Linked DNA regions of Homo sapiens: regions 1 and 3 are each linked to region 2. The links come from fine-mapping of genetic effects on gene expression. A gene starts in region 2. Each other region holds a variant in brackets. All regions are shown on one strand. Distances are between the middles of the regions.

Evidence for each region. PIP is the estimated chance that this variant, and not a neighbour inherited with it, causes the effect.
Region 1: its variant is fine-mapped to the expression of IFI16 in whole blood (TOPMed, PIP 0.94).
Region 3: its variant is fine-mapped to the expression of IFI16 in whole blood (TOPMed, PIP 0.98).

Annotation. Positions count from the first base shown.
Region 1 is chr1:159,045,731-159,056,815 of GRCh38, reverse strand. It overlaps IFI16 (interferon gamma inducible protein 16), which reads right to left. Exons shown (of 12, transcript NM_001376587.1): 9 at 7,217-7,384; 10 at 4,718-5,137; 11 at 3,092-3,283; 12 at 1,665-1,995. The coding sequence ends at 1,915. It also overlaps a transcript of AIM2 not described here. Among named protein-coding and RNA genes, the nearest start is that of AIM2, 25 kb to the left of the region's middle. The variant G/A (reference allele first, on the strand shown) is at 5,907.
Region 2 is chr1:159,006,288-159,017,061 of GRCh38, reverse strand. IFI16 (interferon gamma inducible protein 16) reads right to left here and starts at 7,155. Exons shown (of 12, transcript NM_001376587.1): 1 at 6,901-7,155; 2 at 2,117-2,401; 3 at 1,075-1,190; 4 at 362-529. The coding sequence starts at 2,381. It overlaps LOC124904432 (a long non-coding RNA gene), which reads left to right and starts at 3,012. Exons shown (of 2, transcript XR_007066671.1): 1 at 3,012-3,495; 2 at 3,582-4,555. RefSeq lists enhancers at 846-2,045, 7,219-7,298, 10,626-10,774 and a silencer at 4,337-4,446.
Region 3 is chr1:158,968,719-158,979,803 of GRCh38, reverse strand. PYHIN1 (pyrin and HIN domain family member 1) reads right to left here. Exons shown (of 9, transcript NM_152501.5): 8 at 6,033-6,157; 9 at 2,745-3,103. The coding sequence ends at 6,038. Among named protein-coding and RNA genes, the nearest start is that of PYDC5, 28 kb to the left of the region's middle. The variant T/C (reference allele first, on the strand shown) is at 5,773.

The DNA.
Region 1 (11,085 bases), 40 kb before region 2:
CTGGTCAGCTTAGGATTGGGCTCAGGGGAAGGGAACCCAGAAGCCCAACATGGCAGCTAAAGGGTAGTTTTTTTTTTTTTTTTTTTTTTTTTTTTTTTGCCGGTTGGGCTTTTGGCCTCCCTCTCCTTGTGCAAACTGATAAAAGGCCTCAGGATTTTTGAGCTGTCCTTACCCCTCCCCTTGTTTAGATACATGTTTTCTAATAACACAATTTGTCTCTTCTTGCCTTCAGGCCATCAAACTCCAGTCATGCAACTGGAGAGGCGGACAATGGCCCATTCTGCTGGGAACCCTTAAATAGGCCTCTGAGGGACTTTGACTGCTGTTTTGCCGAAACAGCACCCCCTGTCAGCAGGAAGCAGTTAAGATCGGTCTTTGTCCTTATCCTTATCCTTATTCTAATGGCAGTTAGATGCATTTCTTTAGAGGGGGCAATGAGACAGCCAGGTGGGAAGGGGTCCCCAGAGAAACTCCAGCCTGCACACTGGGAGGAGTGTGCACTGGGGTGAAGCCACAGAAGTTTGCGCCATTTCCAGTGGGGAAGAGCCCAGCCCCTCCTCTTCCTGGGTGGAACCTGAAATTCAAACTGCCAGGTGGGAAGCCCACAAGCAGGGAGTCTGGCTTTGCAGAAGGACCGTTTCCCTCTTTTCCTTTTCACCCAATAAACGCTGCCCTCCTCACACTTCAAATTGTCTGCGAGCCTAACTTTTCATGGCCCCATGATAAGGATTCCCATGTTTAGCTGAACAAAGGAAAATTCCTGCAACAGTAGTAGACTTCCCCATTCCATTCCTCACAGCTTCCACCACATCCCCACAACCCTCTCCTAACGTACACACCCCAAACGAGAAGAGCAGCCTGGGTTCTAAATCAAGCTCTCTAATTTACCATCTAAGGGTCATTAAGAAAGTGACTTTGCCTTTCTATTCCGTGTTTGTCACATATTATAGGGTGAGTAAAGAGGAGAAAACAATCAACCTTCTAGAACTAATATGAAGATTAAGTGTCACAAAATAATTGCCAAGTACCAGGTACCAAATATATAATCAATAAATTTAGCTAAATTTTAGTTTTAGATACTTACTTTCTGCTATTCTATTCTGAATAAAATTAATTATCTTCAGTGTTTGCCTAATGCAGCTCTTCCTAGGGCAGCTTTCTAATGTATCAGATCACTATAGTGGATTGCGAGAACAGGGAATATGGTTTGAAAGTGCGTGAAGAGCAGTCGGTGTTTTGAGGAAATGCATAAAACCAGATATTTCACATCAGGCAGGCCCAGATATTCCTCTAACACAGACAAGTGCCTTCATGCACATCACCAGAAGGTGCCTCATTTGGCAGAAAAATTACCCAATTATGCCCCCTCCAGGAGACCAATTCTGAAAAGATATCTACTGCTCTGGGCTAAAACAGTAACACAGCACTTGGCAACTGAACCACAAACTGGATTTCACGCTTACTTATCCCTTTAGCCTGGTTTCTTTCAGCAGAACACAGCCTGTTCATTCTTGATCAGGGCTTTACCCGGTAAAGATCACACCCAAAGTATAAATCCAAATATTGCTTGAGGCCTGTGTGCCCCACCCTGATTTGCAGACCACAGACTATTTGCTTTTAAGCAACTCATGGATGGATTAAAGAGACTGCTGGGGAAGCATTCCTTTCACAAAAAAGATAATGTTTATTTATTTTTTCAAATTATAGAAGTTGTAGATGCAAAATATGCCATTTTATTAAAAAAAAACTATGAAAAATTAAAAAAGCACTCCCAATACCCCATTCCATAGGATTAACAGCTAGTATATATGGTGGTGTGTATGTATAGTGTTGTATTTCAACCAGGTATATGTACATTTTTTTAGGCACTTAGACCTTATCTCCATAAACATTATCGTCAATGACATCCAGATTTTAGAAGAAAAAGTCTGGTGAAGTTTCCATACTTGAATCAGGATTGAGTATGTCTTTCTTGTTTTTCCTGGTCTTGATGACCTTGAAGGAGAAAGAGATAAAGACAGACCAGTTGAGATGCTGATGATCCTACATTTCTCCCTTCAATCACACTGTATCTCCTCCCCCTGCACCATATCTCTTCCCCTATTCCTTTCTAAATGATTCTTTTCTCGCTCTCATCTATCTCCCTTAATAAATTCTTGACCTTTGAGTCATGCCTCTCTGTTTAATTTGGACCGTGAAATGAGATATTCACTCCTACTCAGCATGAGTGCAAGTGAAAGAGCAGGAGATGTCAGGGAACAACAGGAGAGAGAAAGGAGCTGGTGCACCCAATGACAAGAGTTGAGGAGAGGGTTTTCATTGGGCAGAAGGAAGGGGGAGAGTACAAAAGGTATTCCTGGTGCAATTGCTATCAAAGAAGGTTTGAAATGTTTGACTGCTGGTCCTGAGAACTGGAGCAATCTGAGAGCATGTGTGTGCCTGAATATGTCAGCCTTTGTTTTGAACTATTTGCCTTCTAATATTAGCCTTTGTTAGTGTTCCAAGAATCCCACATGAATGTATGGGTCAGTGTGGCAAAAAGCATGGACTTTGTTATGTAGACCCAGCTACCTCTGTCTGATGTAAACCAGTGTATGTATCTCACTAAAGGCAGGTACCTTTGTGATCTGATTTGCTCAGATGCATTCTTGGTAATTCAGGGCTGCTGTGAGCTAAGTTGATGACCCTCTATGGTAGACAGTATTTCTCCCATTTCACAAATGATGAACCTGAGATTCCTAGTGTAAGTCTTTAGTCAACTAGAAAGTCACAGAACCAGCTAGTTGAAACAAATGTGCCTTAACCAAACCCAAATTCTTATTAAATTATCTCCACATTGTGGTAAAAGCAACCAATTCTTTCTTATTTAACTTAGGTATCATGGCCTTTGAAAGTCTCTGTAATTTTTTTTATTATGATTACAAGTATCCTTCTTTAAAAACAATGGTGGGAAGTTTACACCCAGTAAAGTGCAAGGCTTTGTTCCTTTTCCACTTGCTAGACTCTCTGTAATAGTAGCAGTCTAGTCTTCTTAAAGTATAAACAAAATGATTCGCCACTTGGAAAAATGATGTTCCTATAAAGTTCCAACCTTGATGTGACTATGAATTACAGATCTCAACTCCCCGGTATTCCCACTTTTCGGTGCCAATTCAAAGCAGGTGAGTTTCAGTTTATCTCCTTCCTCACAGTTGATTGTGGTCAGTCGTCCATGCACCACCACTTCCATCTTCCCTGTATTATCTTGTATTTCATAATAAGTGAATTCACCCCTTACATTTTTCTGCAAAAGAAAATTAACACTTATCTTCTGAAACTGGATCAATAATTTTCAAATCTATGAGAAATACAGGGTGTTTCTGGAAACTTTTGTCTTTGATAGAGTAAACAGAGCTGTAGGTCCTGAATAACAGGTACCAAATAGCTTAAGATACTTGGTCTTTGAATCCTGCCTTTCAACTCCTCCCTTGAGCCTCTTTTGTTGAAGTTCTTTGTCTGCTGGATTTTTTCTAGGAAAAAAAATTGATTACTTTCCTAATTCTTCCTGTTTCCACATCAGCACAGCTGGGATTTTTTAAGGAGCCTGGATACAGAAAAATCTGATTAATTTGGTAGGTTTCTTTCACACCTGCCCAAGAGCAGAGAATAGAGGCTTTTTATGGCACTTTGTAAGTTTGAGAAAGAATGTTGCACGTCCTCATTAAGTAGACTGTTATTTCAATATGTAACTACTTCTTTCTTCTCCATATAGTCACTCTTTCCCAATCTGCCCAGATCTCAAATCTAGATCATCCTATCTATCTAGTCACATTGTTCTGGTTTGTAGCTCATTATTCATTAACTCTACAACCACATATATATGTACAGTCATTTAAACTGAGTGTAGAGAAAACAGCACAATTAAAAGTAAGCCACCCTAGAAGACATGTATAATGGAGTATGAAACAGTACTTCAAACAAGAAGTTAAATCAGCTAAGCATAATATTTACATGATGTGTAGAGACTGAAAGGCACACTGTAAGCCTAAGAATTCACCAAGCTTTTTTTCTTTTTTTTGCATTTTATTGCCCCATTTATAAATTGAGCAGTTAAGCTACGTGACTTTTTTAGTCTTTTTGCTTCGTATTTCTCTTATTATTTAATGCAGAAGTTAGTTGCTCTACAGTCTCCTGATGAATTAATGAATGAGAAGAGGCAAGAAACTTTGGAGTCCAAATGATCAGAATTCTAGCTAACTGTTAGACATAGCTGCATTCTAAAGCAGAGTAGTCTATTTTATTTCTTACTCTGGTTGTCACAATCAGGATTCAGGCTTGGGAGAGCAACTCTTTTATTCACAATTAAATTAAGTTGTCATTGATACAGATGGAGAAGAACTCAAAGAAACAAAATCCTAAGGATATGTGTGTTGATATAAACTCTGCACTGTCCTGGACAAGGGTGGCTCTGAATAGATCATCAAAACTAATAAAATGCCAAGTTTCCTAGTGACTGTCTAAATAACTTGCATGATGATACCTTAAGAAGAGGAATGTTACAATATAACGTACCCCATATCCTGAAATGAACTCTATTCAATTATCTCTAGTGCTGGGGGAAGGGTGAAGGGGTTGATTTTCTGTGTTGAGTAAGTTGACCAAACTCCAGTTGACAAGTTAAGACTTTAAAAATTGGAGGTTGCAGGAGAAATTTTATAAAACAATGGTGTGGGCTTACCTTATGTACCTCAAACACCCCATTCACAAAACTTCCTTTAGTTTGTGAGCAAAGCTGATTGATTTTAGGAGTTACGCTGGCACTTCTAATCAATCCTTTTGGGATCTCCATGTTTCGGTCAGCATTCACATCAGCCACAAGTGTGAAAGGATATACCTCCAGGAACCCATTGCGGCAAACATAATTTGCTATGGCAATGATCTTCTTTGGGGTGAACTTCTCCTTTAGGTCAATATTAAAAACCTTCACTCGGAAGACTTCATTCTCAGTTGCCACTGTGGCATGAAACATTTTCTTCTGCTCTTTGGGCTCATATACAAATGATTCTGTTGCGTTCAGCACCATCACTTCTTTGAGGTCACTCTGGGCACTGTCTTCTATGGAAACTTCTTCAGGTTCAGTCTTCAGTCTTGGTTTCAACTTAGAAGGTAGAGACCAAAACATAGGCACAATTAAAACAGGAAAAACAGGGTCATTCTCTAGTGAGAGTCATCTCAGCCTCAGTGTTGGTCCTCAAGTATCACCTTAACTGGGTAAAGTAGGGAAAACTAGACAAAGATCACTGAGATAGTATGATTTAGGTAACGGAAGAAATGAAAAAGATGTAAGGAGTAATTTTATTATCTTCATTGTTTTATGAGAGTGGAAGGAAGAATATTTCTTTTTTAATGAGAATTAACCCATAAAGAAAAGGCATATCCCCTATCAAGAGGTATGGGGAAGCAGAGGGTAAAGGCAAAGCTGCCATGAAGTGACTCCCAAAAGAGATGAGATTTTAGAAGAATCTCAGTTTTACTCCTTTCTACCCAGGTCAGGTCATATTGAGCACTGCTGGTCCGTGGAGGCAGCTGTCCTGCCTCCATGTTCTGGTCTCTAGGACTCCCTTGATCCCTTCTTGCCTCCATACTTCCTCTTCCAGATCAGCAGCCCCTCCAATTCAAAGTGCTCTCCTACAACTCAGAAATAGTGCAGGCCACTGTGGAGAGAGGAGGTTAAAGAAAAGTTCCCTCCTGCCTAATATGACAGTGACCAAATAAAATAAAAATAGAGAAAAAAATCATATTACTAGCATTCAGAGTAAGGAATAGTCTCAACCACAAACCTTAGATTTCATGAGATTTCAGTTGGAACTCATTCTAGTAGATAGGGGCATTTTAAAGAACCAAATTGCAAAGCCCTTTCTAATGAA[G/A]CAGCACTATGTTGCAAAAACATCATTAAGGCAGCCACTGGAAGACTCCACAAACTTTCCTAATCTGAAGGGGCCCAGGTTAGAGGCTCTCCAATCTGAATAATGGCAGGAACTAAAAAGAGTCATGGACGTGAAAAATTAGGCGGGAGGGGACTTTTCTTTAACCTCCTGTCTCCACAGTGGCCTGCACTGTTTCTGAGTTGTAGGAGAGCACTTTGACTTGGAGGGGCTGCTGATCTGGAAGAGGAGGTATGGAGGCAAGAAGGGATCAAGGGAGTCTTAGAGACCAGAACATGGAGGCAGGACGGCTGCCTCCACAGACCAGCAATGTGATCTGACCTGGAAGATGATATTGGCCACCTGTGAGTGATGGCTTTAACTCTGATGGACTTAACTCTAATGAACTCATCAATGTGGCCAATTTTCCATAACATTAGGAAACCCATTCCCAATGAAGTTAATCAGTATCAAATCACCTCACAATAGCCATGACATCAGTACCCTGACACAAGGTGCACAGAACCTAAGGAAATAATTATAAAGCTACTCTGAGGGCAATGAAAGAAGATCTGAGAGACATGTGATCTTATTATGTTCGTTGTAAATACACAGAATACTGGAAACAACATAAAGCCAAATAAAAAATGATCATTTTTATAATGTATGGAATAACTGTGCAATTTTTCTAGTACAATAAAATAATTTAAATCTATATTGTATGATTGCATGGCAGTTCACGATATATTAATAAAAAACATGGGTTATGGAAAAATATGTGAATGTGATTTACTCTGAGAGAAAATAAGACTCTTTGTATATACATACTGAAAGGTATAAAATCAGAAAGACCATGTACTGAAATGTGGCATTAGATAGAGATTTCTGACAGTTAAAAGTTATTTTTGCTTATGTACCTTCCTTTCCTAAATTTTTAAACATATTGTTTGAGTTATAATAAATGAAAGGGGAAAAATCAGTGATAGTGTTATGGGTGGCTCTGTTTTTTCCCACCTTGTTCTACTTTAAGGTATGATTTTCATGATGTATTGAGGGAAAAACAAAAACGTAAGCCAAAAGAAAAATAAAATTAAACAAACATCTAATTATACCTGTTATGGAATAGAGATGATAAAAACAGAATTTTAATTTTGGATAGGACCTCAAAATACACACTTGATAAATAAATGACTGATTTGGTTAAATTAAAGCATTGTATGTAGTAGGGGATTGGTGAGGTGCTTTCACGGTTGTGTTAATCCTTGTCATTATATAGTAGCGAGGGGAATGTATTGGGAAGAGGGAACTTGTACCGTGGTTAAGAAACTGCTGCTTGGTGTTGATGGAGGCATCTGAGGAGTGTGGGGATGGCTCTCAGCTGGGCCTATGCTGGTCATGAACGGTCCTGGAAAATGACTCCCTTCCTTCAGTATCTGCATCCTCATGAAGTCATTCATTTTGGAGATTGTGTCTTCACTTTTCTAAAGGAAAATAGATGTTTGTTCTTTTTTTCTAGTTAATGTTTTTCAAGATCAGATGAAACACATCTTTTCCTTTTTTCTTTTTTAAATAGGATGTTCACTTTGCCAGTTTCTCTGTTTTTCCCTGAGTTGCAGGAGGAATAATACCACATATTCAGATACTTCTATCACTCAGCCTTCTCTCATCCCAGTCAGGATTAAAAACTCAGATAACTGAAATTGCATTGTCTGGGGATGGAATACTCAGTCTTCACATCCTGTAAAACTGGACTGAGTTATTTGGTCAGGTACAACTCTTAGGGCTATTTTGGGGGCAGCATGGCTTGCAATAAAGTTGGCTACATTTATGGACATTTATTAACTAGGCCTTTCTCATCAATTAGATACACAAACCAGTCTCTCTCAAGTGCTCTTCAGCATACAAGAAACCCAGATCTCCATCCTTTAGGGATCTCTGATCGTAGCCATAACAGGAAGATTCTCTCAAATTCACAATTCCTCAGGGAAGGTTCTATGATCACTACAGTGTGGATCAGGCTATCAGAATCTTTCAGGGTTTTTAGCTGTATTCAGAACAATTTAATATTCCACCTAAAGCATTCCCATTAGCTATATTTTTATACATTTTTCAAGTAAGACTGGAGAATATCTCTAAAATCACATACCTTGACTACCTTTAATTAAACTAATGGAAGTCCAAAAAATATTCACCCTATTTGGCCAATGTGGCACATTATTTTAGCAGTTTTGCCATTCAGTAACCTAATTTTTTAAGTGGCAATTGTTGATAGAGAGGTACACAAAAGAACTGCTTGTAGTGAGCTCACATGGAGAACAGCTTCTTGATTAGAACAGTCTCTGACCACCACTGAGCACCTGGACTATGGAAATAAACCCCAAACAAAACACTGTATTTTCAAAATTGTTTAACATTTGCACACCTACTGTGGATTCAGTCTATGCTCATTAAAGGTTCACATTTTAAATGTTAACATTTTAAGTTCAATAAGGCTGCATTTGAATCCTGACTCTAATACTATTTGTGTGACCCTGAGGAAGATTTCTTTGCATCTCAGTTTTCTCACATGTGAAGTGGGACTAGCCATAGCATTTTTGTATGGTGTTATAAAGAATAAATTAGGTAATGTGCACAAAGAATGGGTTTTAGAGTCCAGAGCTCAGTAAATGCTCAATAAATAAATCTTTGTTGCTATTATTTTTCCACGATCTATTAGGGGTTTGCGTGTCTGCTCTGATGAACAGCTATTTCATGCTTTATGATGCCCTTGCTGATGGAAATCTTGTATGGAGGTAATATAGGAAGCATAATAGGAGAGAAGCCCCTCTCTTCAGATCTGCCATGTGTAGCAATGTAATTTTATTGACAAGATTGTCTTGAGATATAATGTTTTAAAAATAAGTGAAATCTTAAACTGTCATCACAGTAGCCCAGTTTGGATGATGAAATTATAATCTTTGTTTGAATAATATTTTAAAAGTGCAAGCATTTGTTTTCCCTCAGAATAAATCCTCCTCCACCCTACCCTGTTCATGAATTATGCCCTTGTGTACTGTTCACTTCAGGATACGTAACAGCATAAATCAAAGGTAATAGTCTGTTTCCGGCTTTGAATTAAAGTCAGAAAGAACTCTATTATAGAAAAACTACTTGGGAGAAGCTGTGATGTATAAGAGCAAGGATTCCCGGCTTACGTTGCGAATCACAGACTGATTGGTCAGACACCATTTTTGCAGGCCTCCTGTGAAGATGGCTGGATCCCAGAGAAGAAATGACTACGTGGTGTATGTTTAGGTGGATGAGTCTGCCTTGGATCCTGAGCTTTCAGAGCAGCAGAATGATTCCTATGCAAGTAGAAATGATTGTGCTGCATATTTAGGCAGGCAAGGTCTTAGAAAGTGTCACTTCCAAGCCAGTATGCATGGACAGAGTAGTTGTCTTATGATGTCTATGTATGTCATTACAGTAACAGAGAGACAGTGGGCCTGAGATTTTCATGACTACACATGGGCTCTACCTGTGGCCTTGATGGTAAGTCCCAAGATGGCAACAGTTACAAGCAGCTAGTTCTGCCCAAGAAGAACCAGGAAAGACTATATAGGGGGAAATATGAAATCTTGAAATTAATAACTAAAAAAAAAGACTGTCTAAAAAATTGAGAAAACCTGTATGTAGAAAGCCTGTTCTCAACTGACGTGTGTGGATGGTGCTCGGGTCCGCAACCTGGGCCGGGGGTAGCTTGGGGCTTGGGTGAGAAACAACATTGGAGAATAGTAATGTAAATCTTAGTGTTCCCTATCCCTCAAGTTGCCGTGGGTCAGTATTTCCCTGCCCATACCTTCCCTGCCCATTCGTCTTGGGTGTAGGCCCCATAGCGCTGGATTGTAGGTCATACAGAGGTATCAGGGCAGAACAAAAGGCAAGCTGGGATAAGGGTTGATAACACACAAGTGTAAATTCACTTTCCCACCTCTGTGTTATCTTCTCCTAGGAAAGGGTATCTATAACCTACATTTATTGCTGAGTAGGGAAGAAAGTCATAGGTTTATTATAGCTATGATAAATGCTCTAAAGAAATAGAAAGGTACCTATGAAGGCAAACAATGAGAAAATATGATCTATTCTGGGAGGAGGGTATTAGTGAGAACTTGCTCAAGGAATAGATGAGACTGGTACCTCGTGGTTGAACTTATTTGGGGACAGAATTGAGATGGAAAAATTTGATATCAAAGGAAGTATCAAAACCCTTGATGTGGTTAAGAGCATGGATAGTGAAACTAACCTCTGATGTATGGTGAGAGAGCAAAAGAGAAAGGATTGCAAAGAAACTGGAATGTAGAGGATGAACATATTGGTAATAATAATACTGGTGGAATTGTTATTCAGGAAAAAATAGCAATTATTCCTGTTCATATCTCAAATCATTGTATGTTGTTTATTTAAAGGGAGACATGGTAGAAGATATCAAATATAAAAATGTTATCCTTCTGGTTTTCAAATCAAAACCAGGAATAACGCATATCACACACAAAACTCATCAATGTGGCCAATTTTCCATAACATTAGGAAACCCGTTCCCAATGAAGTTAATCAGTATCAAATCACCTTACAATAGCCATGACATTAGTACCCTGACACAAGGTGCACAGGACCTAAGGAAATAATTATAAAGCTACTCTGAGGGTAATGAAAGAAGATCTGAGAGACATTTGTTCTTACTATGTTCATTGTAAATTCACAGAATACTAGAAACAACATAAGCCAAATAACGTAGGATCATTTTATAATGTATGGAATAACCATGCAATTTTTCTGGTACAATAAAGTAATTTAAATCTATATTGTATGGTTGAATGGCAGTTCAAGATATATTAATAAAAAGCATGAGTTATAGAAAAATATGCGTAATGTGATTTACTCTGAGAGAATATAATAAGACTCTTTGTATATACATAATGAAAGGTGTAAAGTCAGAAAGACCATGTACTGAAATGTGGCATTAGATAAAGATTTCTGATAGTTAAAAATTAATTATTTTTGCTTATGTACCTTCTTTTCCTAAATTTTTAAAGATGGTATTATTTGAGTTATAATAAATGAAAGAGAAAGAATCAGTGATAGTGTTATGGTTGGCTCTGTTTTTTCCCACCTTGTTCTACCTTAAAGTATTATTTTCGTGGTG
Region 2 (10,774 bases):
ACCTCATTCACAAACTAGCAGGTGCTGGAGAGGTCTGACATGGAATACTATAGTGAACCAAGGGAAGAGGTATGAAGGACATGGGAGCAGTAGACAGTGAGCCCACAGCTGACAGTTCTGTACTGCATAGCTCTCTCTCCCTTCCCCAAACAACACAGAACAGAAAACTTCCTGCAGTCAGAGATAATGTCAAGTTCATCAAGTATCCCTGTGAAAGCAAAAGATCAAAATGTAGTGGTTTCTCAATATGTACATTGGATTAACTAGCAAATTATCGATGCAATTTTTAAGTAACCGGTGAAATCAGTCCTTTACTTTGGGTTGAAAAAAACAAAGCAAAATGGGACCAGGAAGAGTGTACCTCAGTTGAAGAACTGTTGGGTGGAGCTGACAATGAGGTCTTGGGAGATGGGGAACGGCCCATGGCTGTGGACATGCCGGCTCCTGCAGGAGAGGGAGGCTGAGTCTGTTCCTCGGACACCTTACTCCCTTTGGGTCCAGCCTTTTCTTTGGTTGATTTTTTTCTTTTCTGAAAGTGGTTTGATTTTCCTGTTATTCGTTTTCAGTGCCAAATGAAGTAGAGCACATTTTCATTATTGGATAGTAGTTTTATTATTCCTAAGAAGATGTTTCTTGGAAACTTGAGAGGTTGCTGCCCATCTCTCGCCAGTTTAAGAGATGGGCATAGATGGTTTCATTAAACGAAGAAAGAGGAGAATGTTATACACATTATTTCTCTAATTATTTCTGTTATGGGATGTGCTGACTTGGGATTAGAGAAACTAGGTTTTTATACACATGGACAAAGTACTTACCTGATTCTCACGTTGACACTCCACTCTACTAGAATGAAGGTATCACATTTATGTTATATATATTTACATTATGTTTACTCATGTGTTTGGTGCATTGCTTTGAGCATCAATAAGATGATCAATTATCATACAATTTGGTAAATCTGAAACTTGATGGGAAACATGAAGAAATAACTGCCTGCTGGAGAGATTGAGTGGAAGAGCCGTAGCAGAGCTTCCTCTGTGGGACTTGAAGCCTGCTCCTCTTCCTGAAGCTTACCTGAGCTCCAGGAGTTGCCTCTGCTCCTTCAGTTTTGACAGTGCTGCTTGTGGAGGGTGCAGGTGAAGTAGCATCCACTTCCTTCTTCCTCTTTCTTGATAGGGCTGGTCCTTTTACTGGAATAGATTCAATTTTATTCCCAACCAATGCAGAAAAAAGGAAGACATATAAACGATCTCCGACAGCTGAAGCAGTTTCAATACAATTTGCTCTCAGTTCCTGCTTGAGGGTTCAGCTGTGCTTTAGTCTAGCTCTACTGCATTAGCCCAGCCTGGCCTTAAGGAGACCAGCAGTCACAAGACAGGAACAAGCACTGACTCATGCTCCTCAGCACTTTCCTCACTCCTCCCCTGTGCACTGAGCACATGCTTCCTGTTCTCTGAACTCCATGTGCTTCAGTTAACCCTTTCCCAATGCGGTTCTCCGATCATTTTGTTTTAAAAACTAATGTTTTCATGATGGAGACTGCTAGGTCACATTCCCCAGGTAAAGATATTCAAATTATAGAAACCAGCCAAAGGTTTCCATGAGGAAGGATATACTGATTTTGGACTTAGACTTTTTCAAATCCTTTTTTTTAACTTGATATAACAAGAGAGGAGATCACACTTCTGAGAGGCAGGCTCACATGTAAGTATTGCATTTTTTTAAATTATAAAGGGTAGTGATGGGTTAAATGGTCTCAATAGAACAGATACATTCATTGGCTAAATGTACATATCTTGAATTTAAACAGTTTTTATGATTTTATTATTATATAATCTTTCTAATGTACTGGAAGTCTCAGTCCCCCTTCAACTCCCTCTCACTTTTGTTCTTTCACTGATCCCAAATATACATTCTGAAATACTTCAATCTACACCAGTAATGGAATGCACTAAGTTGTCAACTTGTTGGCCTCTGAAGTACCAACATTGTCTCAGCTGTTGAGTCACAAACTGGGGAAAACACATCTCAAGTATGTCCGAGGTGGGGCTCTAATCAATGTTGGGGAGGGTTTGGGGATGGTTGCAGGGAGTGGGTGTTCCCTCTTCCCAATTACCTTTTAACTTTTCTTTTTTAAGAGTTTCAGCCAGGTCTTCAAGCGTTGGTATATCTTCGAAAATTTTTATTAGTTTGCCCAAACCAGCATCACCTCGGAACTTTTCTTCCATCAAGTCAGCAATCTGAATTTTGTCATACTCTTCTCTCATTTTTAAATTAAGTTTTAAATCGTTGCTCAGTAAGGACTTAACCATTCTAAAATGATAATCATTGATGACCTCTAATCCTTTTAGTAGAACAATGTTCTTGTATTTTTTTCCCATCTTTACAGACATAAGTGAGCCTACAAGAGAAAATGGTATATACAGTGTTACACATGTATACAGACAATTTAAAAGATGTATGCCTATGTGAGTGAGTGGCCCATATGAAAGAGTTGTTCATGAATATGTGTGATAAAGAAGGACTCAACGACCAAATGTGTTACTGTAGAAATTGAGTGAAGAACTGCTGGGTTAGGAATGTCTAAGAAATTATTCCCATTGAATGAGAATAGTTGAGTTGGGTCCAGTTGTTAGAGGGAGGTCTGAGAACAAGCAATTGCCTCAGTGTTAAGAGTATGAGCTCTGCAGTGTCAAAGCCCTTGGTTCCTCTTCTTATCCTTTACTGGGGCTGAAGCCTATTCCCCAAATCCTGCCTGTTGTTTCTTAAATCTTCCCACACCCAGTATGACTGGAGCGGCCTAGGTGTAAATGGGCTGCAGCCTCCCACCTTATATGAATAACTTTCTGCTACAGCGCTACAGTTTCATGCTGTGGCACTGACCCTATTCTCCTTGACTCTTCCCTAGTTGGCTTTCATTAGCATCCTCCCTTCTTTGGTGCTAGACCATGGCTTCTGTTCTCTGTACCCATAAAACCATAACTTTGCTGAAAATCTGCATGCTTTCTAGTGCAGCATCACAGTATTTATTCACTGAAATGATTTTATTGGTTGTTTTATTTTTCTTCTTTCAGACTTGATTTGTCTAATTATTTCTTTTCGCACAATCAGTTTTCTCTCGATAAGCCACATTTATATTCCACTGAAATCCTTCAATATTTCTCCTTTTTCTTCCCCAAAATTCCTTGCTTCCTATACTGTCTCAGAAAGTGTTGAATAAGCTGCATCTTTTTTACTTCTAGTACCTTTGTACTCCTTGTATCTATGCTTCACAAAGATGCCGGACACCTTGTGTCTTCATGCCTCATGACTTTGCTAGTTCCTTCTTACTGCCTGGAAAGCCATTCCCACATTTCTTTCTTTGACTACTTCCCATACAACCTTAAGACTCAACTGAGGCTTTGTCTCATGGTAGATTTCAGAGTCTCCCTATGGACAGAGTGTCACTGCTCTTGACCTCTTAACACCTGTACACTTCCATGATGACAGTGCAAGGTATGGATTCCAAAACTTTTAAATTAATGAATTTTTTAATTTTAGGAATGATGTCTTTGTGTATAACCAAGATATCTAAATTTCAGGGGCTATTAATTGGGCCAGGCGCAGTGGCTCACGCCTGTAATTCCAGCATGTTGGGAGGCCGAGGTGGTCGAATCACAAGTTCCGGAGATCAAAAGCATCCTGGCTAACACAGTGAGACCTCGTTTCCACTAAAAATACCAAAAATTAGCCAGGTGTGGTGGCAAGCGCTTGCAGTCCCAGCTACTCGGGAGGCTGAGGCAGGAGAATTGCTTGAACCCAGGAGACGGAGGTTGCAGTGAGCGGAGATCGTGCCACTACACTCCAGCCTGGGTGACAGAGTGAGACTCCGTCAAAAAAAAAAAAAAAAAAAAAAAAAAGCTTCCTTCTTACGAGAACATGAGGATCCTTGGACTGAAAAGGTCCAGAGAATGAAGGGAAAATCTATACAAAAACACATTATAGTGAAACTGAAGAATATAATGAACAAAAATACTCTGTAAGCCTTCGGTAATGAGGAATAGATCACCTACAAAGATTCAAGAATCAAATTGAAAGTGAATCTCTATATCAAAACTGCCTGAAGCAGGACAATGGAGTTATTTTTATATAATGTTGGTCCAAAGTTCCATATCAATTGCAAAACCAAAAAAAATTTTCAATGGAAAGTTTTGACTTATTTTGTGAGTGTGCTAGAAACAATAAGTTCGTCTTCAAACTTTCCTGTTCTTTCCTGTTCTGTAAACAACCCTTCCTTCCTTTGCCGCCCCAGACATGCCTTCCCGCCTAATTGGTACAGGACAGTGTCTTCCTTCCCGCCTAATTACCCCTATAGAATTTAAAGCAGTAGCCAATCCGGTCAGCTTAGAATGTGCATTGTGACTGACGCAGGCAGCACCCTTCTGTAGAAGCAAATATGCTTTGCTGAGAAATTTCCTGTTTAAGTGCTGGTTTTTCTTTGTGGCACTGAGCACTTGTTTCCAACAAGTGTGACAGCACAATTTATTTGCAAAATAAAACCAGATTTGGGATGACAGTAGGCTATGTATAATCTTTATTTCACTGAAATGTGAACACTCACATGTTTTGTTTTGCAATATTAGTGCTTTTGATTTTGGAGTAATTATTTATATCCCAATGGAGTTTCTAGTAAGACACTATTTAGAATATATACACTAAATAGCCTTTCTGAAGCCTCCAGATTCTTAACTTCAAAATGTATCTAGCTCCACAGCACAGAAGAGGTGCTTTCATCTTGTCTTAAGGGAAAATATAATTTTACATTTTAGAGTTTTAATTTAGGCAAAATGATATTTAAATAGAAGAGTCTCAAAAACTATTTTGTGATACTCAGGGCCTCAGTCTTTTTGCAAGACAAAGACTCATACCACAAGAAAACATCTATTGAAAATAATATTTAATAGGAAAACATGAATAAAATTAAAAATTCTGCCAGCCAAAAGATAAGAAGAGTGAAAAATAAACTTTTTTAGGTGTTCCTAATGTCTTACAAAGAAAACCCTGATCAAATATAAGAGAAACAGAAATTACAACAGCATGGTAAAGGGAGGGAAGAAAAAGAACATGACAATTCACTAAAGCAATTGTCTTAGATAGTGAGATGATATAGAAGTGTCATAAATTGAAGTAAAGACAGCAGATTGTTAATTACCAGCATATACCTAAAAGGTCTGACCTGTTAAGTGACAACTTTCATCAAATTTGATTTAAGAAATCTACATATATATTGTTAACAAAAGGTGAAAAAAATTGTTAAAAATTATCTTGCAAGGAATAACTAAAGAAAGCCAGTTTATCTATGTTTGTGTAATTTTAAATATACCTTAAGCCCAAAAGTAACTTCAGATACCACATGATAAAAGTTTCAACTCCTAGAAAATTATGTTTTAGTTATGAATTTATCTAATTTATCTAATGATATTATTTATTATTTTATAGTGCTTCATGGTACTATAATTAGTATATATTTCTCTTCATATACACACATGTACAGACATCACTACACACATATATGTGTGTACCTGTTTGTATACATGATTATATATACATATATTTGTGTGTGAATGTATATTATATATACACATAACATGTATGTGATTGTGAGAGCACTACAAAGAAAAAAAATTTTTTTTTTTTTTTGAGACAGAGCCTTGCTCTGTCACCCAGGCTGGAGTGTAGTGGCACAGTCTCGGCTCACTGCAACCTCTGCCTCCTGGTTCAAGCGATTCTCCTGCCTCAGTCTCCTGAGTAGCTGGGATTACAGGCACACATGACCATACCCGGCTAATTATTGTATTTTTAATAGAGACAGGGTTTCGCCATGCTGGCCAGGCTGGTCTGGAACTCCTGACGTCAAGTGATCCGCTCGCCTTGGTCTCCCCCAAAGTACTGGGATTACAGGCATGAACCTCTGTGCCCGGCCAAAAAAGCAAACTTTATAATAGGAGATTTCAGTTTATGCTTCAATTACTAAATGAACAAGGTGAAAAAATCTGTAATGATATAATAAATTTGAACAACGTAATTAACAACATTTATCTAATAAAATTCTGAAAACAACATTTAAGAATCTCACATTCCATTTAAGCACACATGAAATATTGTACCAGGCTATAGAAAACATCTTTTAAAAATTTGAAAAGTAAACAATAGTAACCTTTTCCTAACTGCCTTCCCCTCCACTCCCCTATACCTTGCCACAAGGAAAAAAAAAATCATTAACTTTCAGGAGGGCAGAGAGTAATTCCAAAATGATTGAAATTCTGCCGCTAGCACCCGGTGCAGAATGGAGCTAAAGTAAAGGATCAATATACTTATGAAAATATTAAGACACCATGTGCTTGAGTAACTGTGTTTGTGAAACTGAAAAAAATTTTCTACTCTGTGTACATTTGTTCTTATGTTTTGTAAAATTGGGATGATGTCATATAATACATCTCTATGCTCAGATATGTTTTTTACTTAATATTCTTTCATGATACTTTTTTCATGTCACTATCTTGAGAACCCACCACAGCTACCGAGTTTCCAACACTTCTTCCAGCCAAAATAACAGAAGCCCTCTTCTAAGTACCAACTTATGCCAGTATACACTCGGATAATTAATTTTAAAATCTGCAACGGTCAAAATGCATTTTCTCTTGTTCAGTCCTCAGTTGTGGTGGAATAGAAGATGCCTGTTATCTTCCTAAGTAAATGAAGGATTCATATCAAGCAACTCAGTTTTCACTTTTCTGAATACTCAGCCCTACTCCCATCATCCCATGACCCTGAATAACCAATACTGATTGTCCCCTTGTGATTCTGGGGACTTCAAGGAAGGAACAAGATCATATTTACAAAATCAGGAACAGTACTCACCTCACTGGAAATTTTTTCAACAGTAGTCCAGATCTTGAGATCTTCAGAAATGCAGGAATCAATGCTTATTTGTGTGAGGGGGGAGATAAATCAGTAAAGTTCCCAGAAACGGAACCGCAGGATGTTGTAATCTCCAGAAACGCTAAGAAAATGAAGTATCTGCAAAGATAACAAGGAAAAAAGGCCTTGGTTGAGTCACTTAGTTAGCTGACTAGTGCTGGCTTGCTCCTATTCTGCTATTGCCCCAGAGAAAATGGAGTAGGAAACAATGTGGAGACTCCTCCCACCAGTGTTTTTAGCTTTCGTTTCTGTTAGTCAGAGAAAATGAACAGTTTCCTGGCAAGGGCTGGAGCATGTGGTGAGGGGAAATGGGGGATGAGAAATTACTTTAATGGGTACAGTTAACATTTTTCGGGTGATGTGCACACTGAAATCTCTGACTTCACCAATATGGCATATATCCATGTAACGAAATTACACTTGTATCTCATAAATGTATATAAACACAAATAAGTTTTTTTTCTTACAAAATTCGATAGCTGAAAGGAGTTCCAACATTAGAACTTTCTTACCCAGCAGACTTACATGTGAGTCATTAGAGACTTATATTCCCTTAAATGATGCTCAAATATAAGAGAAGCAACATGGCTTCTTCTCCCCTCCTTTCCTGTGCACAGAGTGGCAGTGGCAGGAGGAGATCTTGGTAGGAGCATCTATTGCTACCAATACTTTACTGCATCTCCTGGTTGGGGAAATGTCTGCTATGAAATCGCTATTTGTTTAAATACTACCTGAAGTATTCATCCAATTATTAATAACTGACAAGCCTGGGCTTTCCAGATCAGAAAGTCATTATGAATATGTAAATCCTTCCTTAAATTTATATGAAGGAGTTTAACACTAGCTGTCCTCTTGACCATGACTAGGTTACTTTACCTCAATGATTAGATTCACGAATGCTCAGATTTTCTGCATTATTCCTGGATAAACAAACGTGGATAGTGGACTCTCAACATGACAGCATCGAAGACTTGAAAATCCTGGAAAATGCACTGAACTTCCGGTAGTGTGAGGAGTCTGTTTAATCCTCTGCTCAGCAGTGTATTTTTCTCTGTTAAGGACAGTGGGTGCCCTTTAGCGTGCTGTAACCCCAGGATGTCAAATAAATGGCATCAACTAGCAGATGATGTGGTGTTAACCCAGCAGCAGATCTGCAAGCAGGATGTGGTCATGAGTGGAAAAGGGGCCCCATAGACTGTTAATATGTACTGTCCAAGGCCATCTACAGAGCAAAAGAAAGCTGATTGTTTTAATCCAAACTAGGGCCATGAAGTGAATAGCTGAATTCTGGATTTGAAACCATATGAATAACTTTATCAAAAAAGGAGTAAGTCAAGAAAAAGCAAAGAGGATCTGGAATGATGGCCATAAACATCTCTGGGTGTTCGTGATAATCTTTTACTGGCTTTAGGGTACTCTTTACGTGGATACATTGAGTTGGCCTTAAGGCAGTAGGTAGAGAAGGATATTAAGGCAGTCACTGGGAACCCCAATCCAGAGGTCAAAGGGTAGAGAACCCTTGGAAGTTATGACCCTTCAGAACATTTTCTGCCTTTTACTTATAATCATTTTATATGCAGTAATGTCCTCAATTGGGACTCCAGCATACAACACACAAACTGCGGTCACCTATAAGGGCAACTCAGGACAATGCTCCATAATTCATACCACAAAGATGAAATTTTCATAGATGAAGCAAAGAAATGCTTAAAAATGTGCATTTTCCCCCACTTTGTGGCAGTGGCCAACAATTGCAATTTGTGCTATCATACAGAAAAGTCATTAGTAGAATATACAAAAATTCCTGATAAAGCAAAAAATGTGCGAATATATATACATATATATAAATTATGTAGCTACATTATTACAGTGACTAAATTTATATTAATCAGGCATTATTCTGAATAAAATCTCTCAATTATGTACCTATTTTTGAACAATGAGTGTTCCATTTCTCTCTTTATGACAAAAAGCAGCTTACTATTTTACCTTTCTGGCCTCATTTTCCATACTGTTCCACATATACCAAAGTTTTAGCTGTGCAGAAACATTTATGTCACTTCACACTTTAGAGTATTTGTAGGTGACATTTCTCCTGTCAGTATTGCAAATGTCTTTACCTTGCTAAGAACAAAAAGACCTATTGCACACTGGTTTTTCATGATGCAATAGACTGTGGCATATGCATTGTTCACTTGTTTTGCAAATCAACTCTATGCAGCAAAGTTTCCCCTTTTTAGAGAAGACTACTATCTTAGTTGATTTGGGTCTTCTGGATGCTGAGGGTTCCAAGATCAAGGATGGCCAACTTAGTTTCTGGTATGAGCCCTCTTCCTGGCTTGCACATAGCCATATTTATGCAGGGTCCTCACCTAGTGTTGAGAGAGAGAGAGAGCACTCTCTGATACCTCTTCTTATAAGGGTGCTAATCACATTATGAGGACCCCACCCTCATAAACTACCCACCAAAGGCCTCGTTTTCAAATATCATCACACTGGGAGGTTATGGCTTCATCATATGAATTTAGATAACATAATCCAGTGTGTAGCAGTAATTGAAGCTATTTTCTAAAAACTAGGCGCCTAGTTAGTGTTGGAGCCAAATTCAAACCAGATCTACCTTATTCCAAAGCCCATGCACTTGAATGCTAAGCAAAATTACTTCCTTGATTTACTAATTTCTACACATATTTTTTTCTTTAGCAAAACATCCATGTCCTTTTAAGCTTGTGTGAATGTCATTTTCTTCATTATTTCTTTACAGATTCTCCACTTAACAATATTAGCACAAGGGCATTGTTTGGGTTCTCATGCTTCCTGCTGGGGCTGGACCTTTGCTGTTAAGACACAGAATCTGATTTTCCCAAAGCCTAAACCGAATTATTTTCTTTTTTGGAATACTAACATTTGTCTCTCCAACTCTCACATGAATGGAACCATGCATTTCAGATAATGGCTTTGATGTTTTGTCCATTGATTCTCAGTTGAAATTAGAAGTCAAAGTTTATCTTTTTCGTCACACTTGGTTTTGTGCTGTTTCCTTTTCCCCAATACTTCCATTTTTCTCTGTATTATCTTGTATTTCCTAGATTGTGTTCTACTTAACATATGTATTTGTGATTAAAATTAAAGTATATTATTATATGATAAGGTAAAGGCCAATTCAATTCTATAAACAGTCAGAAATGCGAAATAACACAAAATTACGGACATAAAAGATGGGAGAAGTTTATGGTGCAAATACCTATCGCCTTGGTCTTTTTGTTTGTTTGTTTGTTTTTTGGCACTTGCACCAAGGGTGAATGTAGTTAAACAGGTGGTTATCGGGAAAACGCCCTGCTGGACTAAGAACCACCCTATATTGAAATGCCTAACCTTGTTTTTACTCTAACTCGTTACTTTGAATTTTGTCCTGCTTGTCTCTTTAATCACCCAGCCTTGCTTCTCATGTAAATAAGACTCTCTCTAGCTGGGAAGGTCGGACAAACTCCAATTGACCCCTTAATTTACAAGACACTAAGGGCTCCTTACCCAACCCCCTTTAGTAAGGAGTTGGCCTGGGTAAACAGATCCTCAGCGTTTCAAAAGAGCCCAATTAACTGATAAGGTAGTAACACCAACAATGTATGAAGTTCCCAGGCTTTTTCTCAAAAAGATAACAACATAAAACCTTGAGTTCGTGTCCGGCATAGACCCTATATCTAATTACAATGAAAGATTTACAACCTTGCACCTGGTACCGTTGCTCTTCTTGTAACCATTTGTCTTTTAAGGCATGTTTTTGCTTCTGTAGAATTATTGCATTTGAGTCCCC
Region 3 (11,085 bases), 37 kb after region 2:
CCCAGCAACATGTAATGTATTGATGTAACAAACCTGCACATGTAGCCCCTAAATCTAAAATAAAAGTTGGAAGAAAAAAATATGAATACCATATGACCCAAGATTTATTCTTCTTGGTATTTATGCAAAATAATTAAAATAGGAGTTGAAGAGATATTACTAGCGCTCCCATGTACATTACAGTATTATTCAAAATAGACAAGATGTGAAAACTACCTAAATGTCCCAGTTTTGAATGAATAGATAAGAAAATGTGGTGTGTATATATAATGGAATGTTATTCTTTCTTAATGAAGGAAATTCTGCAATAGTTACAGCATGAATGAAATTCTGCAATAGTTACAGCATGAATAAAACTTGAGGGCATTATGCTAAGTGTAATAAGCCACTCATAAGAGAATAAATACTGCATGAGTCCACTTATGTAGAGTATCTATAATAGCCAAACTTACAGGAGCAGAAAATAAAATGGTGGTTAGCTGGGGCTGGAGGAAGGGGGAAATGGAAGCTGCTATTCGATGGGTATACAACTTCAGATATGCCAGATGAATAAGCTCTGTAGATCTGCTGCACAACACTGTGCTTATAGTTCCTAATACTGTATTGTAAACTTGAAATTTGTTAAGTGGTTGATCTCACGTGCTCTTATCATCATAAAATTCTAATACATGCCTCACTATGTGGTTTTAGAGAAATAATGTTGCTAACAGTGTTGGATTTGCCTCTTCCAATCATAATCATTTGCTAATACACTAGAGATCCTCTCAGAGCTATTTCACTGCCTCTTGCAGAGAACCACTTGGTACAAACTGATCTCTAAGATGTCTATGAGGGTAGGTTAGATCTCTGTGAGCTGTTCTGTCTTTCTCTTTGGTTCACACATTTCAAAGTTAGGGGAAGCCCCAGATTCTCACCTACTTGTGGTCCCAAGTAGGAGCTCTGATGTGTAGTAAGATATAAAAATATAAGATAGAGTGGGGTCAAGGCATTAGAGGTTGACGCTGTTTAAATTAAAACACAGTGAACAGGCTAATTCTTTCGGGTGGAAGATAATTTCTTTCCTATCTCATTTACAGACATGACTGTCCTTAGAAGTTAAAATTTCAGGGAGAAATCAGCAAACACATTAGACAAAGCACCTAAATGACCCATTCTCTAACTGTTAATTACCATCATCTACATACTCAAGAGTGGTCCATTATACCTAGTTTATGTAAAGTAATATGAATATTATGTATTTGAGTAGCTCAGAATACCAATATCATTTGCATATAAAGCAGTTATTTTCTCAGTGTCCATAAGTCAAATTTGAATTTGGAGGATGTTTTAGCAGTTTGTGACATCTTCTCAAGATGAAATCTGTTTCCTAACTAGCTGAATGATGTGATTTTGACCACTTCACTCAATCTCTGAATTTCAGTTTTTTCACTGCACATGAGGAAAAAATTCGGTGGCTTCAAAACATCCTTCAAAATTTGATTTTCCCAAGTGAACCAAATTATCATATATATATATATATATATATATATGTATAGACACACACACACATATGAATATTAGCAATGATATTTGGCAATAAAGAATGTCTGAAAAAACTTATTCATGGTATCTGAATCTATCATACTTTCTTACCTTTATGTCTGATAAAAGACATAATCGGAAAGGTGCAGGGCAAGAGGAAAAAAAAACTACATTTATTCCTTGGATTGTTGGTCCAAACCATAAAGGCAGAACTTTAATGCCTCTTTTCCTTAGATTAATTGGGCATATATAGCTTCAGATCACCACAGTTCTCTGATGAGTACAGAAGATTGCTATTTTGCATTTATCTACTTTTTCATAATTTTAAGGGTGAGAGTGAGGCTCTTTTCAGCTTTCTCCATCTTAGGTGGAATCCGTCTTATTCATTGTTTAATTTGCATCTTATCCCTGTTCTCCTAACATTAGCACACCTAACCCAAGCCAGAACAACAGACCTGGATGTTAAATCAAGGACTATATAAGACCACCTAAGTGTCACTTCGAAAGTAAATTTGCTTTCTGTGCCCTTTTTTCTTTATATATGGAGAGTAAAAAGGAGAAAACTGTCAACCTTCTAGAGCTACGGTGAAGATTAAATGACACAAAATAATTACACCAGGTGCCAAATATATGATCCATAAATACATTGTAAGTTTTAGATACTGACTTTCTGCCATTCTACTCTAAAATAAATTAATTATTCTTCAGTTTGCCTAAGTTAACTGTCTGCCTGGGCAACTTTCTGATGGATTCATATAGTGGAATGTGAGAAGAGGGAATATGGTGGGAGAGCTCCTGAGGAGCTGTTGGTGCTGAAGGAAATGTATAGAACCAGATAATTTACATCAAACAGGGCCAGGAATTCCTCTAACATAGGCAAGTGCCTTCATGCACATCACCAGAAAGTGCCTGGTTTGGCAAGAAAATTACCCAATTATTCCCCCTCCAGGAGTCCAATTCTGAAAAGATATCTCTAGTTTTGGCTAGAGCAACTCCTTCCCAGGACACAGTGCTTGCAACAGAATCACAGGCTGGATTTCACCCCTACCTGCCCCTTGGTCTGGATTCTTTGGGCAGGGCACAGTCAGTTCAGTCTTAACCAGGGCCTATTCCTTAAAGATCCCATCCAAACTATAAATCTGTGTGCCCCACCCTGACTTGCAGGCCACAGTTTATTTGCTTTTACATAACTCACAGATAGATTAAAGAAACTCCTATGGAAGCACTCTTTAAGAAAAAAAAGTTTATTTTTTTTCAAATTATGAAAATTCTGAATGCAAAATATGATATGAAGAAAATGCATAAAAGTAAAACTAATGAAATAAAATGCACCCTTAATACTCCATTTCCTAGAATTAATAGCTGGTATATATATATATATATATATATATATATATATATATATATATATATAGTATTTCAACCAGATATATATACATATATTATTTTCTGTGCTTTGATCTTATCTTCATAAACATCATTACCAATGGCATCAGGTTTTTAGGTGGAGGACTTCAGGCAAAATTTCCACACTTGAGTAAAGATTGAACAGTAGTTATTTGATATCCTTGTCCTTGGTGACCTTGAAGCATAAAGAGATAAAAATAAACCCGTTGAGATGCAGGGAGTCATACATTTCTTTCTTCAATCACACTGCCTCTCCTCCCTGTGAGCCACATCTCTTCTTCTATTTCCATCTGAAGCACTCTTTTCTCATTCTCATCTATCTCCTTTAATGAATCCTGTCCTTGGAGTCACATCTTCCCCCTCTGTTGGGACCATGAAATGCGATATTCACTCCTACCCAGCATGAGCCCACGTGAAAGGGCAGGAGATGTCAGGGAACAATAAGATAGAGAAAGGAGCTGGTGTGTCCAACGACAAGGGCTAAAGGGAAACTTCTCATTGGGCAGAAAGGTAGGAGGAGCGTACAAAATGTATTCCTGGTGCAACTGCTGTCAAGGAAGGCTTGGGACTTTTGACTAATGGCCCTGAGAACTGGAGCAATCAGAAAGCCTTTGCATTTTTGTGTGTCTGAATGTGTTAGCCTTTATTCTGATCTTTTTGCATTCCAATATTAGCCTTTATTTGTTCCAAGAATCCCACATGAATATATGTGACAAACAGCATAAACTTTGTCATGTAGATCCAACCATCTCTGTCTACACAGAGATGTTTCTCACAAAAGACAGCTACCTTTGTGTTCTGATTTGCTTAGGGACATCCTTGGTAATTTAGGACTGTTATGAGGTATGTTGGCCACCCTCAAATTTAACTCCCTCTTCTGTTCATTGTGTACCACAAATAATTGAATGAGCTAATATGTGAAACAATTGGATTATAAAGGATTAATGAAGATAATTATTGAAAAACCCTTAGAATAGTCTGAGTCATTCTGCATACTCAGTAAATGAGAGACATCATTATTTCCATTCTATTAGGTACTTTTAGTCACATCCACTGTTTTAACAACTATGTCTCTATTGATGTAATTCAGTAAAAGGCCCAGCCAAAATTACCCAAGTTTAAGCTCTATATATCAGATGGATAATTCTTAGATGTCCTGTGGGAATCTCAAACTTAACTTGTCTAGAGCAGAACACGTTTTTTCCCTGGAACATGGTCTTTCTACTGTGCTCATAAGAGGTGTATTGAAGAGTAAATGCAATCATATACATAAAAACATAACTTTCACTTCCAGCTTTACCCAGTAGAAGCTCAGTTAGAAAAATATTGTTTTCATTGTTATTTAAAGACTATGCAAGTTTTTTATGTCAGCCTGATCCAGAAATGAATTATGATTTATGTTGATCCTCTTGTGGAAAACCCAGATAAAGTTGTAGTGATTGGGAATAAAACTAATAGCTTCGTTTTTTCCCATATAGTAATTCTGAGCCAGTAATATCTCCATTTGTTTTCCCAACCATTCTGGGCTCTTTGATTTAGGAGAGTCATGACAAAAGATGAAAAATAAGAATGGTCTGCTTTTGACTTTAAATCCAAAAGCATAGAAAAATTTATACAAATTAATAATTAATACAAACACAGTATTATTGGGATGATCTATGATATACAAAAGCAAGGACTTCTTTCAGAGCTAGTGAATCACAGAGGAAGTAACAGGATGTATTTTCCAGGCATCCTGTGGAAGTGCTAGATATCAAAGAAGAAATGGCTATATGGGAGGTTAGGTGTAGGAGACATAGGACCCTAGCTGAGATTCCTGGGCTAAGGGAGGTTTAGATGCAGTCAAATAAATCTAACGGCTATAGAAACAGACCATAATGCGTATTTAAAATGGTAGAACCTAGGCAAACTTTGCGTAGTCCCTTCAAAGCCAAAATGCAGGAAAAATAAGTTCTTTTCCAGAATGTTGTCCTGGGATGTTCAATTATGTCTATTAAGTAACAGAAAAGTGGGTCTGAGCTGGTAATGACTACATATGCGTTCCATCCATGGTCACCTAAGCCAAGATGGCTAAAGAGGACGTGCTAGCTTTGACTCTCAAATAAATTACATATAATTTATTGAGGAAAATGTGATTCTCGGGCTTATCAAAAACAACAAAAACATAAACAAACCAAAAAACGACCACAAATTGAGAACTCCTGTATATAGGTAATCTGTCTTCAACTAGTCTGTATGGTGACATGTCTTCAACTAAAAGAGTGGTGACATGATTCTCCTCTTGCCTTTCTCTTTCATCACCTTCCCTCTCACTGTAGATCATAGTCTTCTGTTCCCTAGGTGGAGGTGACTCCACTGGTCATATCATGACCAAAAGCAGGCTGGGATTCAATTGGAACACTTAGATATAAATTCATTAGTTCACCTTTGTCTGATGTTCTCTGGACAAGAAATCTATAAACTGTACTTATTATCAAGTGTGGTTGAAAAACACTTTATTATTAGAATTTTAATAAATGTTCTAAATAAAATAAAGAGAAATGTTCAGGACACCTTGGCATGATGTGTTCTATGGCAGGAGGAGAATATCAGTGCAGTATTTTTCTGAGGAAGGGGGATTTTGGTTGGCCCAGAAATATATTGGGGCAAATGAAGAGATGAGAGTAAGGGATTCTAAAAAAAGGAAGTAGCATATGCCAAGACACTAGCTATGGAAAGAAACAGGGATTTTGAATATCAATCCTAAGTTATGGTCATTAGTCGTAGTGGAAAATTGTGAAAGGAAACTGGAATAGAAGGTACGAACATACTGTTGTATTCATCTCTCCTTGTCTGGATACCTCC[T/C]CACATACACCATATTTGCACCAATGAAAAACAGTAATCTTCCTGAAGACAGAAATGATTTCATGAATGCATATTTTGTGAGTATTGAAGGACTTAGAATCCAGTGGCATGTCCAATTATATATTGATAAATGAATGAGAAATGTAGTAAAATAATGAAATAATATATAGTCAGAATTTAAATGAGAATCCCTTTGAAGACTCTGATTACCCCTACAATTATATTTTAGAGGTACAGCAATGCAAATAGAAAGGTGGTACCTTATTTAAGGAACTGCTGGATGGCGGTTGGTGGAAGTGTCAGAAGAAAGAGGAGGGGCCACAGTTGGTGAGGTGATTCTAAAGTTTGCAGGCGATGACTGTGCTCCTGGGTGGGTTTCATCCTTCTGGAGTCATAAATTTGGGTAATTTAGTCTTTCACTTTATGACAGAAAGAACTGGTTTTTTCTGCTTAATATTTTCCTATATAAGTTGGATGTAATACATGTGTGTATATGTGTGTGTGTGTGTGTGTGTGTGTGTGTGTGAAAATCCCTTTTTATAGAATCTTCCCTCTGCTAATCTCTCTGGATGCTGGCATACATTTAGTTTTCTTAACCCACATTTCAGCATACACAGAAACTAGCATATAGTATAAGAGAAAATGGATCTGAGCTGGAAATGATTAGGCATGGGGTCTATTTGAGGCCACTTCTGCCAAGATGACTGCCTGCTTACTGATCCACCAGATAAAATCTGTAGACACTCTTCAGGAAAATATGAACTTTGGGTAACAATAACAAAATAATAAAGAAAAATCCAGTCACATATAGCAAACTCCTGTAAAGAATAAGTCTGTCTTCAACTCATAGGTGTGGGGGAGTCACTGAGGCTGTAGGCTGGGTCAGTGTGGATCTTGGGGCCTGGGTGAAAAACTAGATGAGAGAATAAAGACTTAATACTCCCCTTTTCTTTCTCTAAGTTGACTTCTTGTTCACTGCTGATAGAGGGTGCTGTGGCACAGAGGCAGGTGACTACACAGTCCAACTTACTGGTAAGTAAAAGGCAGCATGGAATAGGATTTCATACACACAGATATAAACTCATTCATGGACCTTTGTTTTTACTTACCTGAGCAGGTAGCATATATAATCTCAATTACTTACAGGGTTGAAAATATACTATAATTACTGTGGTGACAAGTATTATAAAGGAAATAAATGGACATGTGAAGGACACAAAGAGATGATCTGTCTTATTTTTGGATGGGGTTATCAGGAGGTCTTGCTTGAAGACAGTTTTAGGCTGGCCCAAAAATATATAAAGGCCAGTGAAGGAATAGGAGAAAAAGATTCCAGACAAAGGGAGTACCATGTATGAAACAAAAACATGTAGGAAAGAGTAAGAATGTTGAAAATAAACTGTGAGTTATGGTTCTGAAGCAAAAGGGAAATCTGTGAATGAACAATGAAATGTAAGAGAGGAACACACTCTTGTATTTCTTCATCTTTGTGTACTCTCCTCCACTCTTTCTCTATATCTGGATCATAAATCACAATAATGTCTTTAGGTCAGGAATGATTTTATCAATGTATCCCTTGTAAATCATAAAAATCCTAGAATCTAGTAGCATCTCTGATTATATACTTAATAAATGAATGAGAAATATAGTAAAATAAAAAACTATTTAGTCAGAGATTGATTGAAAAGCTCTGTCAAGATACTGATTATCCCTTTAAGTATAATAAAGGGAGGCACAAAGAATGGCAACAAGAAGTTGGTACTTTGGTTAAAGAACTACCAGATGGGGTTTGTGACATTTTCTGTGACATCTGAGGATGGTTCAGAGTTGGAGGTTCTCCGATGACTGAATTTTACCTATGCAGACTATACACTTTGAAAGGATACTATCTTATTGGAGTCATATGTTTGGGTGATTCTGGCATCTGTGTTCTGAAGAAAAGATCGACTTTTCTGATTAATGGTTTCACTATGAGATGAAGCCTGATTATGTATCTGCCTCTATATCTATACGTATCTATATCATCATCTATCTGGTTTGATTTTTTAATTTATTTTTTTCTTTTATTCTTTTTACATTGTCTTCCTTCTTGCATTTTCTCTGGCTAGCAGCATAACTTTAGATATCCTAACCTCTTCACCTGCACATTCACAAATGGCATTTTGGCCTTCGTTTTATTGACTGAAATTCTGTAGGTGTGTGATTGGGTCCTGGCTCTGTTTCTGGTGAAAACTCATCTAGGCTAACTTGGTCAAGCACCTCTGCTGGAGTTATTTTTGTTAAGTAATGCTCCTAAGTTATAAGGGTAGTAAGTTTCAGAACAATGTTAGCCAAATGGATGAAAGCCATTTTCATCAAGCAAATACACAAAGGATTCCTGTAGTTTGCACTTCAGGACCCAGAAAAATCAGTTGTCAGTTGTTTGGGGATACTGATCTTCATTTTGCTATCAGCACTCTCTGAAAGCACAGTTCCAGTCAGGATTCTGTTTATCCAGTGATTTGCATCAGGTATCCAAAATCCTTCAGGATTCCCAACAGCAATCACAACCGTTTCAGATTTCACTAGGGCATTCCCAGAACATGTCTTTATATATATATATATATCTTGTTAATGTAAGGATAATGGGTGTCTGGAAAATCACATGTGATTCTCTCTAAGCACTAAGGAAAGCACTTAAGGACGTTCTACTTCCAATATCAAATCACTCTCTTTACTAAGGAAAATAATTAAGGACATTCTACTTCCAATATCAAATCACTCTCATTCATTTCTATTTGTAGATTTCCATAATATTTTTCTTTTGTCCTTAAGGAGATGGAAGGAAAGTGCTGAAAGATCAGTTTGCTTATGAGGGTTTCCAAGTGAGGACAACAAACCCTAGCCATCTTGTGCACCTCATCCTGTTTTAGAAGCTTGAAGAGTCTGGATTATAAAAACAAATGTAAAATTCAACACTATTTGAAATGCTTATTGATATATTACAGATATTTTAATATCTACTCTCTCTCACTGGAAGAAACATACTCCCTCAACTACAAAAACTTTTTAGTTGACTAAGTTGAATATGAATCTTTCAACTAATACTAATTATCTTTATTAGCTTGGGAGAGATTTCTAACTTCTCTGAACCTCATGATTCTCATATGTGAAATGAGATATAGGTTGTATCTTCATGGATATGCAATAAAGAATATATGCTATACATTTTATAATAAACACAGCTTTACTTCAGAATCCAGTAAATGCTCAATAAGAAGAAATATCATTATTATTTTCATTGTTATAGTATATGCAGTGTTTGTGTGTTTGCTCTATTCACAGATATTTTATGCTTTATGTTGACCCAGTTGTAGAAAATCTCATTGAGGAGGTATGGGTAAAATATTAAATAAGCTAGTCTCTATTCCCTTCTACCAAAGCTAGTAGTCTAATCTCATTGATAAAAGTGAATTGAACAAGTATCTCTTCAAAATAAGTCAAAACTGATAAGATCAGATATTACAGTTATCTTAGTGGAAAGGCCAAGAAGTGATATTGGACGTAGAGGGGATGTGATAATAGACATTGGAGACTCAGAAAGGTGGAAGTGTGGGAGTAGGGTGAGGGATGAGAGATTATCTAATGGGTACAACATACACTATTCAGGTGATGGATACACTAAAAGTCCCAACTTCACCACTGCGCAATTTAACCATGTAACAAATCTGCACTTGTACCCCCTAAATCATTAACAAATATACATAATAAAATATAAACAAAAACATTTTCATTACAGAAGCAGAATTTGGATGCCTAAGATCTTAGCTTTGGTTGAATATTAATTTAAATCATTGCTGATTATTTTCCTCATAGTAATTTCTCCCTAATAGCATCCCTGATCATGACTCATGCCATTCTGTGATCTATGCTTTAGATGAGTCATGACAGATGGTCATGCTTCTGTCTTCTTCGGGGTTTAGATCCCAAAGCATAATGAACCTATATCATACACAAATTTTTGAGTGAACCCTTGATGAGTAAATGGGCAAGGCTTTCCTGCTCACCTGGTGAATCATAGATTGAGTGGTGAGACAACCTTGGAGTGGGTCACCAAAGCAGAAAAGGTCCATGATACATTTAGGTGTAGGTGGCCATGGAGATACATGCCTCTTTCTAAAATTATTGTATTAAGGGAGTTTATGTACAGCAGAATAATTCCTATGAATGTAGAAATGGCTGTATTACATATTTAGACAAAAGAACTTAGAAACTGTCACTCCATTTTGTCTAAGCCATTATGCGTCAGAAAATGGATTGTCTTTAAATGTTTGTCTTTGAAGTAGCAGAGAGTAAATGGATCAGAGCTGATAATGACCAGGAATGGGCTCCATCTAACCACCTGAAGTAAGATGGCAAATAGGTTAGATTGATAGCACTATCCACAAATAGTAATTTTAGAAAGTGTACAGAGAAATATGAATTATTGGAATTCACCAGTCAAAAAGAACAAAAGCAGCAACAAAACAAAATGTAAAAATGAGAACTCCTTACATAGGAGTCCTGTCTTCAACTGGTACACATGTATTAGTGATGCAGAAAGAAGGTTGGTCAGAGTGCAATATGGTAATGGGTAAGATACTAGATTGGAAGATAGTGACTCAGTTTTCCTTTTACCTTAGCTTCAAGTTGCCTGCCCATTTACTGAAGATATAGGCATCTGATTCATAGGCCTTAACATGGCAGTGAAAGAGAAAGAACGAAATAGTGAGTCACAGTTACCTAATTTCTCATGCGAAGCCTTGCAGAACCTGAATTATGGAAACAAACTCAAACCATAACGATGTCTGACTTTAAATATATAGAAAAATATTTCAGAAATTTTAACATCTACATTCTGACTCTGGAAGCAATATATGACCATGAAATACTTAAGTTTTAGAGTTCATTAAGGCTGGATTTGAATGTTGACTGTAAGACCAAAAATTATTTTTTTAACTTTTATTTTAGGTTCAGAGGTACATGTGCAGGTTTGTTACATAGGTAAACTGCATGTCACAGGGGTTTGGTGGACAGATTATTTCATCACCCAGGTATTAAGCTTGATACCCACTAAGAATTGTTTTTTCATCCTCTCCCTCTTCCCATCCTCCATCTTCAAGTAGGCGCCAGTGTCTGTTGTTCTCCTCTTTGGGTCCGTGTGTTCTCTCATTGTTTAGCTCTGTTTATAAGAATGGCATCCAGCTCCATTCATGTTGGTGCAAAGGACATGATCTTATTGTTTTTTGTGGCTGTGTAGTATTCCATGGTGTGCATGTGCCACACTTTCTTTAT